2 separate regions of the Homo sapiens genome follow, and region 2 is linked to region 1. The links come from fine-mapping of genetic effects on gene expression. A gene starts in region 1. The other region holds a variant in brackets. All regions are shown on one strand. Distances are between the middles of the regions. Region 1 holds the start of NIN (ninein). Region 2 overlaps NIN (ninein).

Region 1 (4,270 bases):
TCATCCTACCTTTTCCCCACTCTGCAGAATGCTTCCCTCTAAAGAATCACCAGAGAACAGGGAAAATAAACAAATCTGCAAACAAATTCCCGGGCAGTTCACATCACCTCCCAAAGGACACTGACAATAGCTGAAGAGACCACAACACACAAACTCGTTTTTCAGCCAGCCTGTAATGTTCCTCCTATACACACTCTGGAAATCCTCAGCTCCCTTCAACTCCGGAGCAAGAGCCACCAATATTCCAGGTCAGCCACCTATATAATATGCTCACCACGAGAGAAGACTCAAGGTAAAATTAAACTGACAGAAAAAAGGAATTTTCCTTGTTAGATCATCAAGCCTCCGGAATCATGCAAACATGTGTGTATGTTATGGTGTTTACGGGGACCTAACTGAGAAACGTCGTGGTTCCAGGGGCTTCCCTCATGTGTCAGGATGGACTTTATCAGGATTCTCATCCTACAAAGCTACCATGTCAGTCACAAAAGACAACTACGCAATCTGTTTCGATGTAATAAATTCAGGAGTTGAGCTGTATGGCAAGCCCATCTTAGAAGTCCTCAACACCAGGAGAGGATCTGTCCTAGTTAGGAGCAGAAAGCAGATCTCATAATATCCAAGTTGTCTGGAAACATGATATATGGTAGGGCAGTCTTTCCAGCTCCCATTTTGTTGGTGCCTTCACCTCGGGTTGTCAGGGCTGGGGTTAGGGAAATTGCCTCTTTCCGTCTCTATCTCTTTTAACTTCGCAGCGAGAGCTGGAAGCAGTGACTGTTCCCATCACCTAGTGTCCTTCTGTCAGGGGCCGCTTCGGTAGCTACAGAAGCCTAGCCGCTGGAAGCTTCCTTCCCCGACACTCCATACCTCCATGCCACACCTTTTAGGCAATAACCAAATGTCATTTTGTTCTTTCCCCTTCTCCTGGGCATTATACTGGGAAACTGTTTACGCGCATCGACCCCGCACACCTCCAAAAATCTCCACTTTCCGGGCTCCAAGCAGCTCTCCGCTACTCAGACAGCCCAGGCTAACACCTCGGATTTCCCCATGCAGTTTCCTCTGCAGCGTCTCAATCACAAGGCTGTACGGGCGGCACATGCCAACGGAACCACCACCCCTTCTGCTCCCTCGGGGACTCAAGCCTGCTCTCGGTCAAAGCACAGAAGCGGCTTTCAGCTCCGGGCAGGCGGCCGGGGCGTCGGGGGTACTGGAAGTGCCCAAACCCAGCGGTGCTGCCGCGCGGGGAAGCGGAGGTGCGGCCGCAGGACAAGCGCGCCTCCCAAGTCCCTGGCCACCTGCGATGCGTCCTCAACTCGCCTGCCCATCGCCACTACCAGAAACCTCAGACAGCCCATTGTGTGGGCAGGCAGCGCGCTCCCCCGGCCCCGCCGCCCTCGCCTACCTTCTGTCGGTCTCTCCGGAGCGCCCGCACAGCCGGCAGCCCGCCTCCAGCGCTCTGCAAAGCGAAGGAGGACGCTTTGTTAGGGCTGGAGAAACGGGACAATACTTCGCAGCCGGCGCAGCGGTTCCGGGCGGGCGTCCTTCAAAAGGACGCGAATGGGGACCCGCGTGAGCGTCATTTCCATATGTAAGGGGCCAGCTCTTACAAAAGCGCGGCTCTCGGGGGCCGCGGGCTGCAGCGCGCATCCTCCCCGCCCCCGCCGGCCCGCCCCCGCCCGCGCAGCCCGCGCCTCCGGGACCGGCCCCTCCTCCCGCCTCCGAAGCAGCCCCGTCCCCGCCTCGTCCTCCCGCCCGGCCGCTGCTTCCTCCCGGCCCGCAGGGATTGCGCCCCGCTGGCCCCGGACCCCAAATGGGAAGCCCCCGAGTGATCCGGTGCCCAGTTCGCTCCGGGCTCTCAGGGCCTCGCCGACGGCGCGGGGGCAGCGCGAGGCCTCCGTGCACCCCCAGGCCGTGGGTCCGGGTCCCCGGGGTTGCGCCACTTACTGCGTCCCGGGGCTCAGGCGCCCGGCGCCGCCGCGGGAACCATGGCCGCTGGCGCACTCCGGGCTTGGCGGCGGCAGCGGGACGGCCGCGCCCAGCGCGCTCGGCTCCCGGCTCGGCCGCGGCCACCCGGAGCTCTGGACGCCGGGGAGGAAGGGCCGGGCCCGCGCGGGGAGGAGGAGTCAGGGCGACGCCGGCCCCGGCGCGGCTCCTCCTCTGCGGCCCGCGCGGCTCAGGCAGCGGAGGGAGGAGCGGGCGGCGCCGCCTGAGCCCTCGCAGACGCGCCCTCCCGCTCCGAGCGCCCGCCTCCGAGATCTGAAGTTAGAAACGCCGGGGCTCCGGGTGCGGGTGTAGGAGGCTGGCGCCCCGAGGTCGCCACCGAGCTGGGGCTGGCGCTGCCACCCTCGCCCCTTGCCTGTCCGCCTCCCTTTCTTTCCCAACACGCCTACACTCACCCGCACCGCGGACACTCGGGCCGCAGCGTCTTCGCGCAGAGGAAGGGCCCCCGCCTTCAGCAAGCGGGACTTTAAGGGGGTGATTTCCCAGCCCTCGGGTGTCGATTGGCCATCAACATTGGAAAGGGTGTTCAGGAGGCAGAAGGGCTGTAGAAGTGACTCGGAACCCTGTAGAGCGAGCGCGACCCTCCTGCCGGGTCTACACTGGCTTCCGCACCTGCCCACCACGTCCTCACAGGCTCCCGCCCCTGTGCAGCCTTCTCCGGGTGAAGCTAACCCTCGGTCGCAAGCCACACAGGACGAAAACTCCTTGGAGTTGGTGGTTCCCAGCCCAACAGTTGCTCGATATTAATCGCCTCCTACCTACTACCCCAGAGTCTGCGTTCTCACTCCCCCATCCCTACACTTCTGATCTCATTGCAGTCAAATAGGATCCCAAGTCCAGGCCATGGTTCTTTTTGAGCTGCAGGGTTAAATGTGTTGCCCTTGAAGGATCCGCCTGATGGATTACAACCCACAAGTCTGGTTATTTTAGCAGGAAACTGGTGATTCCTTTTCTACCGAGAAAGCAAGCAACAGACAAGAGGAAACCAGCATTCCTTGAGAATCCAGTGCGCTAGAAACTCGACAGAAATTATCTTATCTAATTCTCACATCACTCTTAGGAGGCAGACATTATTTTGCAGATGAGGAAAATGGATCTCCCAGAAGTCAAAGAGCTTCCTCAGGATCACACAGCAGGAACTCCACAGAACTGAGATTCAAAAGCAGATCACATATGTGGCAAAATTGCATAGAACTGAATATACACTCACAAATGAGAGCACGTGAAACTCATGAAATTTGAATAAGACATTTGGACTACACTAATGTCCATTTACTGATTGTAATATTGTTCTACAGTTATGCAAAATGTTACCATTGAGAAAAATTAAGTGAAGCGTCTATAGGGAATCTCTCTATTATTCCTTACAACTTCAAGCGAATTTACAGTTACCTCAAAAAATTTTTTTAAAAATTTTAAACATCTCAGTCTTATTCAAAAGCCCAGGCTCTCTTCTTTCAACACGGTATATAAGCGTGCCTGCAGAATAAGAGAGATTTATGCTCCTCTCTCCTTTTTAAACAGTCTTGAATAAGTACACATACACACACAAACACACACTCATACACTGTATGCATGGTTGTTCAGTCATCCAGTAATATGATACAACACACACACACACACACGCAGTTCATTAAGAGGATAGCTAACCTGTTACCAGAATACTTACATAGAGGTCATCTTGTAAGACAGACAATAATGCTCACTGGGCACTAAAACAGCCAACAGTCTTGGAAGGTAAGAATGAAGAGGTGTCTTTCTTGTTTCACCTAATCTCTGCCATGGAAGCCTCATCCTACTGGTTACCTCTCCAAGCATCGCTTTTTAACCTGCAAGAATCCTTAAGGATGATATTGATCATTAGTTTAAAACAGTGATTCCTGGGGGTCAGGGGATATTGGAAGTGGCATTCACTCCCTGTGCAGGAAGATCAGAATTGCTGGGGGTTGTGTAATTTGAAAAACACAAGATGCGCTTTCTTGAGAGGAGTAAGTGGGGTGGAGTTAGCCCTGGGACTGGGAACTGGGATCACCTCCAGCCTTGCTACAAAGGAGGGAAAGCATGGAGCATGGTTACCGCGTGGTGTGGGTTGGCAAGAGCAACTCTACCAAGAAAGATGATTTATTTAACACAATGGGCCTGCAGTTTGGTTTGCACTGAGCACATGGTTAGTCTTAGTCCAAACTGGAGTCATGGGAAAAAAAAGCAGAGACTTCCTTTAGAGCCCATTACTTGATCTTTTCTCTGTTAAACACAAAATAACAGC
Region 2 (4,270 bases), 35 kb before region 1:
TCTCAGGTTCAACACTGACCACCTTCCCCGTTACCATCACCACCACTGCTGCCATCACCACTGCCATCACCACCACCACCACCACCTCCACCGCCACAACTACAGGCTAAGCTTTTTCTACAATTGGAGCTTTAAAGCAATAAAATAAATACTTCACTCTATTCAAATGTTATCTCAGCTATAGATTTTTTAGCACCTTGTACAGCATCAGAATAAAATGTTTCATTAAAGTACAAAAGATGACAATGCTTTGATTTCTGTTGTCTTGCTGTCCACATATTCATACTCTCTCGAGAACAGATATGTATTCTGTTTGAACATGAGTCTTAGCAAGGTATGTCTGAACTCAGACATGTAGACTTTTAAATGAGATTATGTACACGTATTATAAAAACGACAATAGTTGATTAGATAAGAACTAAAAGAACGACCGTTCCTTTATCACCATTGAAACCATGCTGGGGTTTAGCCATTACTTTACAGTTTCCCAGGGAGGACTGGCGACCCTCTTTGACTAAACACCTCCCCGCCATGTCCTTCCCTCTGGGACAAGCTCGGATTTCACTATCTTCACAAATGTGGCCAGACACATTCTGAACATGCTCAGCAAAGCTCAGAGTGAAGTATTTATGGTAGCTATATAATTTCTAGTGATATTTATATCCAGCTTTAAAAAAGTCCCAGTGAAGTCATTTTATTAGGTCGAGTGATTCTCTTACAGGAAGTGTTTAAGCATACAAAATTTATACTGAAAATTGCATGCATATTTGAAGGTACCTTTTATCAGAAGACAGTGTGTCAGCTTGTGACCATTCAGGAGCGGCCCAGACACCCGAGCTACTTGTTGGCAGCTGACACCCACAGATGCTAGTCAGATAAGAGGCAATGCAGAACCATCCTTAATTTATTACATATTCTTAAATTTTGGTGGCAGACAACAAGATACACCATTAGTGACTATAGGGGTTTGGAAAAGATTAAAAGGAACACTTAGAACCTTGGATAATGAACCACAGTATTTTCCCAGTATAAGAACAAAGTTGTGTCCTGGGGATGGAAGTGGCGAAGGAGCTCTTATTGCATGCTGCACTTATTCAGAGGTTAAAAAAAAAAAAAAAAAAAGCAGTGGGAGAAAACAACTATCTTTTAAAAATCCATTGTGATCTAATCCCAAACCTACCGGTGGATGAAATGGTTCCCTGGTTGTTTACTACTCACTACCCCACGTAGTGCATAGGGTAGATGCAGTGGTGGATTCAAAACAGCTCTTTTTCTAAGCAATAAAAGGTAACAGATTGTGAGCCAGCAGGGACCCTGTGGAGTTTTGGTTTATTTACTCATTTATTTTTGCATTGCCAGGCATTAAATTGTTTATTTCATTATCTTATTATAATAACCAATTTAAGCAAACTTTAAGTTAATATCCTTCATAGAACGTACGAACATGATAAAGTCAATTTCTAGAGACATCTATTAAACTATGTAACCTTTTTGGAATAAAGACATTAGCACACACAAAGAAAAATGGGTTAAAGTTTTCTCATCACTTTATTTTCCAAACCATGCAAGTGACCAATAACGAAGTGGACTAATCACACCATTTAAAAATAGTCACCTCTAAGAATGACACACTCAGACATCCCTCTCCCATTTAGAGCATCCGCCTCATTGCACTTAACATGATACGATGGGAACAGAGACAGCAAAGCTAACGATGTTCAGAGAGAACATTCACGGTCAACAGCCCTTGCTAGGTTAAGCGCTGAAAACACTATGATTCTCCTCATCAATCTCAATCAGAGATTTAGAACTGAACAGCAGATGTCCACCGAACCATGGGGATTATAAGACACTCTTACCCACTCAAGTTAAAGAATGCCTTGACCCTTTCTGACCATGCCTAATGGAAGAGATCCAAAACTGCAACCCTGGGGCTACGTTTATTTACTTTCTGAGCACATCCAGATGGAACCTTTATTTTTCAGGGTGTCATTCTGGAATAATCTTATCTATGTCAGATAACATGGAGGCTTTTGGTTTATTAAGAAACGAAATTATTGACATCACAGAGCTTCCACAGGTGAGAGTATCTGCTCCAATCACCAGCTCCAAGAAGGGACATGAAATGCCTGGCCAATATGGCGAAACCTGGACTCTATTAAATACAAAAATTAGCCAGGCGTGG[C/T]GGCTCGTGACTGTAGTCCCAGAAACTTGGGAGGCTGAGGCAGGAGAATCGGTTGAACCTAGGAGGCAGAGGCTGCAGTGAGCCGAGACTGCGCCACTGCACTCCAGCCTGGGCAACAGGGCAAGACTCCATCTCAAAAACAGAAACGAAACAAAACAAAAAGAAATGCTATCAAAACAAAGTATAAATGACTGCCATGCTTTCAGTGTTTCAGTGTTTGAGTTCCTTGAAAGTGTATTTATGATTCTCCCTGGATTGTTAAGCTTCTGAGTCATTTTTCCTTCTTTCCCATTTTCCATTTCTCCTATTTGGCATCACTACAAAAATTAAAGTGGGCTTCAAAGGAAAGCAGACAAGCCCAGCTTGCCTGGAGGTGTCTCAGACCCCATCCCTGGAAAGCTTATTATGAGACACACCAATCAGAGGAAGGTGGCTTTGAGGCAGTCCAACCTGACCTAGTTTAATGATCTAGGTTTTATTCCATAAGCCAAATGCTTGGTTATGAGCAGGGGACAGTAGAGAAACCTTGCTTCAACCCTCCACTGGAGTAATGTGGAAGTGAGTGACAGTCTCTACAGAGCACGTGGGGAAAACATCTGATTCGAGAGTTAAAAAGATGAAGAAAATACTATGCCTTCGGGCCTTAGAAATGACAGCTGGGTTGCTCACACGCCACATTTGTTATTTCACATCTCATCTGTCCCAAGAAGAGAAACTCCAGAGCTTCGATAATGTTCCCCTTCCAAATCAGGATAAACCACCATGCACATGTATGATGCTTGACCAGAGGTCTTGCACTCATAATAAAAAGAAAGTTAAAATATGGTGTCAGGGAGAATGACCACTCAGAGTAGATAAGCCAGCTGCAGCCAGGGGAAATAACAAACACCCGCCTCATTCCTCTCCCAGTTCCTTTCCCAGCAGCAGTGTGGAGGGGAGAAACACAGCCTCCCCTACTCCAGGTTTCAAGCAATACAGAGTACACTTTTTAAAGCTCTCCCCTAAAACTGACCACTGCACCAGATCACCACATCTGCATCAGATGTGATACAGGTCACTGCTTAAAATGCTCAGCTCTCCTAAAACCACTGCATGAACAGCCAAAGCCAAAGCAATGAGGACCTAAGGGAAGCTAAAATCATTATGCAAAAGCCTGAACACTATATATTCAATTGAATGCTTTCTTTGCAAAAACATAAGCTCAGGACCTGGAATGGAGTGGCAGCCATAGCTGCTTCCTGGAAGTTAAAGGAGATTTTTCAAAGATGCTCCCCAGTGTTAGGCAGATTCATTTAACACATAAGCGTATTTACCAAACACCTGCCATAGGCAAAACATTACGTTGTACCTATTGAGGAAGAAGATGGATATTTTAACTTGTTTTTTGAATCAAAAAATTCCCTGTTCCCAAAAATGACCTGAGGCCATTTCCAAGGATGAAGAAGAAAACCCTGTCGTTAGGGTGCTGGTATTCTCATTTTGGAATTGCTCGCATAGGACTTTGCTTTCTATGTCCCTTCCTGACTCATTTAGTGAGCCTGGGAAATCATTCCCAGAGACACCACCCCCATCCAAAGAACCTCAGCACAGGAGGCCCTTCATGTTACATTGCTGCTGAGCTCACAGGAATGCTGAAATCCGTTTGAAAAGGAAAGGTAAAAAATGAAGCATGTGCAAACCTCAAGGCCAGCATCCCCAAGAAGCTTTCTTGGGAAAAGGCAGTCATGCAGCAAATGAGCCCCACCCTGCCCCATTCTACATCCCACCTCCTCGCCTATGCTGAATGCACCATCACACAGGGATTACACAGTGAAAATGCAAACCCACGCCTGATTCTAAATAAGAGAAGGGAAGAAAATCCAAAGGAACACTAAGACCAAGAAAAATACAGACAGAGACCAGTGGAAACTGACACAGAGAGACAGATATGGAGAGAGAATGAGACAGAGACTGAGACCAAGAGAGGGAAAGAAGTGGGTGGGGAAACAGGAGATAATAGGGACCTAGAGGCCTATGGAGGGGTGGGGAAGGGGAGCAAGAGATATAGATGTGGGAAGACCACCAGGAAGGGAAAGAGTGGAGTGG

The links. PIP is the estimated chance that this variant, and not a neighbour inherited with it, causes the effect.
Region 2: its variant is the best candidate, but not a certain one, in a credible set for the expression of NIN in whole blood (INTERVAL, PIP 0.84).

The regions. Positions count from the first base shown.
Region 1 is chr14:50,829,059-50,833,328 of GRCh38, forward strand. NIN (ninein) reads right to left here and starts at 2,104. Exons shown (of 31, transcript NM_020921.4): 1 at 1,948-2,104; 2 at 1,406-1,459. RefSeq lists an enhancer at 786-835 and silencers at 1,406-1,525, 1,546-1,595, 1,666-1,945, 1,996-2,445.
Region 2 is chr14:50,793,659-50,797,928 of GRCh38, forward strand. The region is part of intron 4 of NIN (ninein); the gene reads right to left. Among named protein-coding and RNA genes, the nearest start is that of NIN, 35 kb to the right of the region's middle. The variant C/T (reference allele first, on the strand shown) is at 2,186.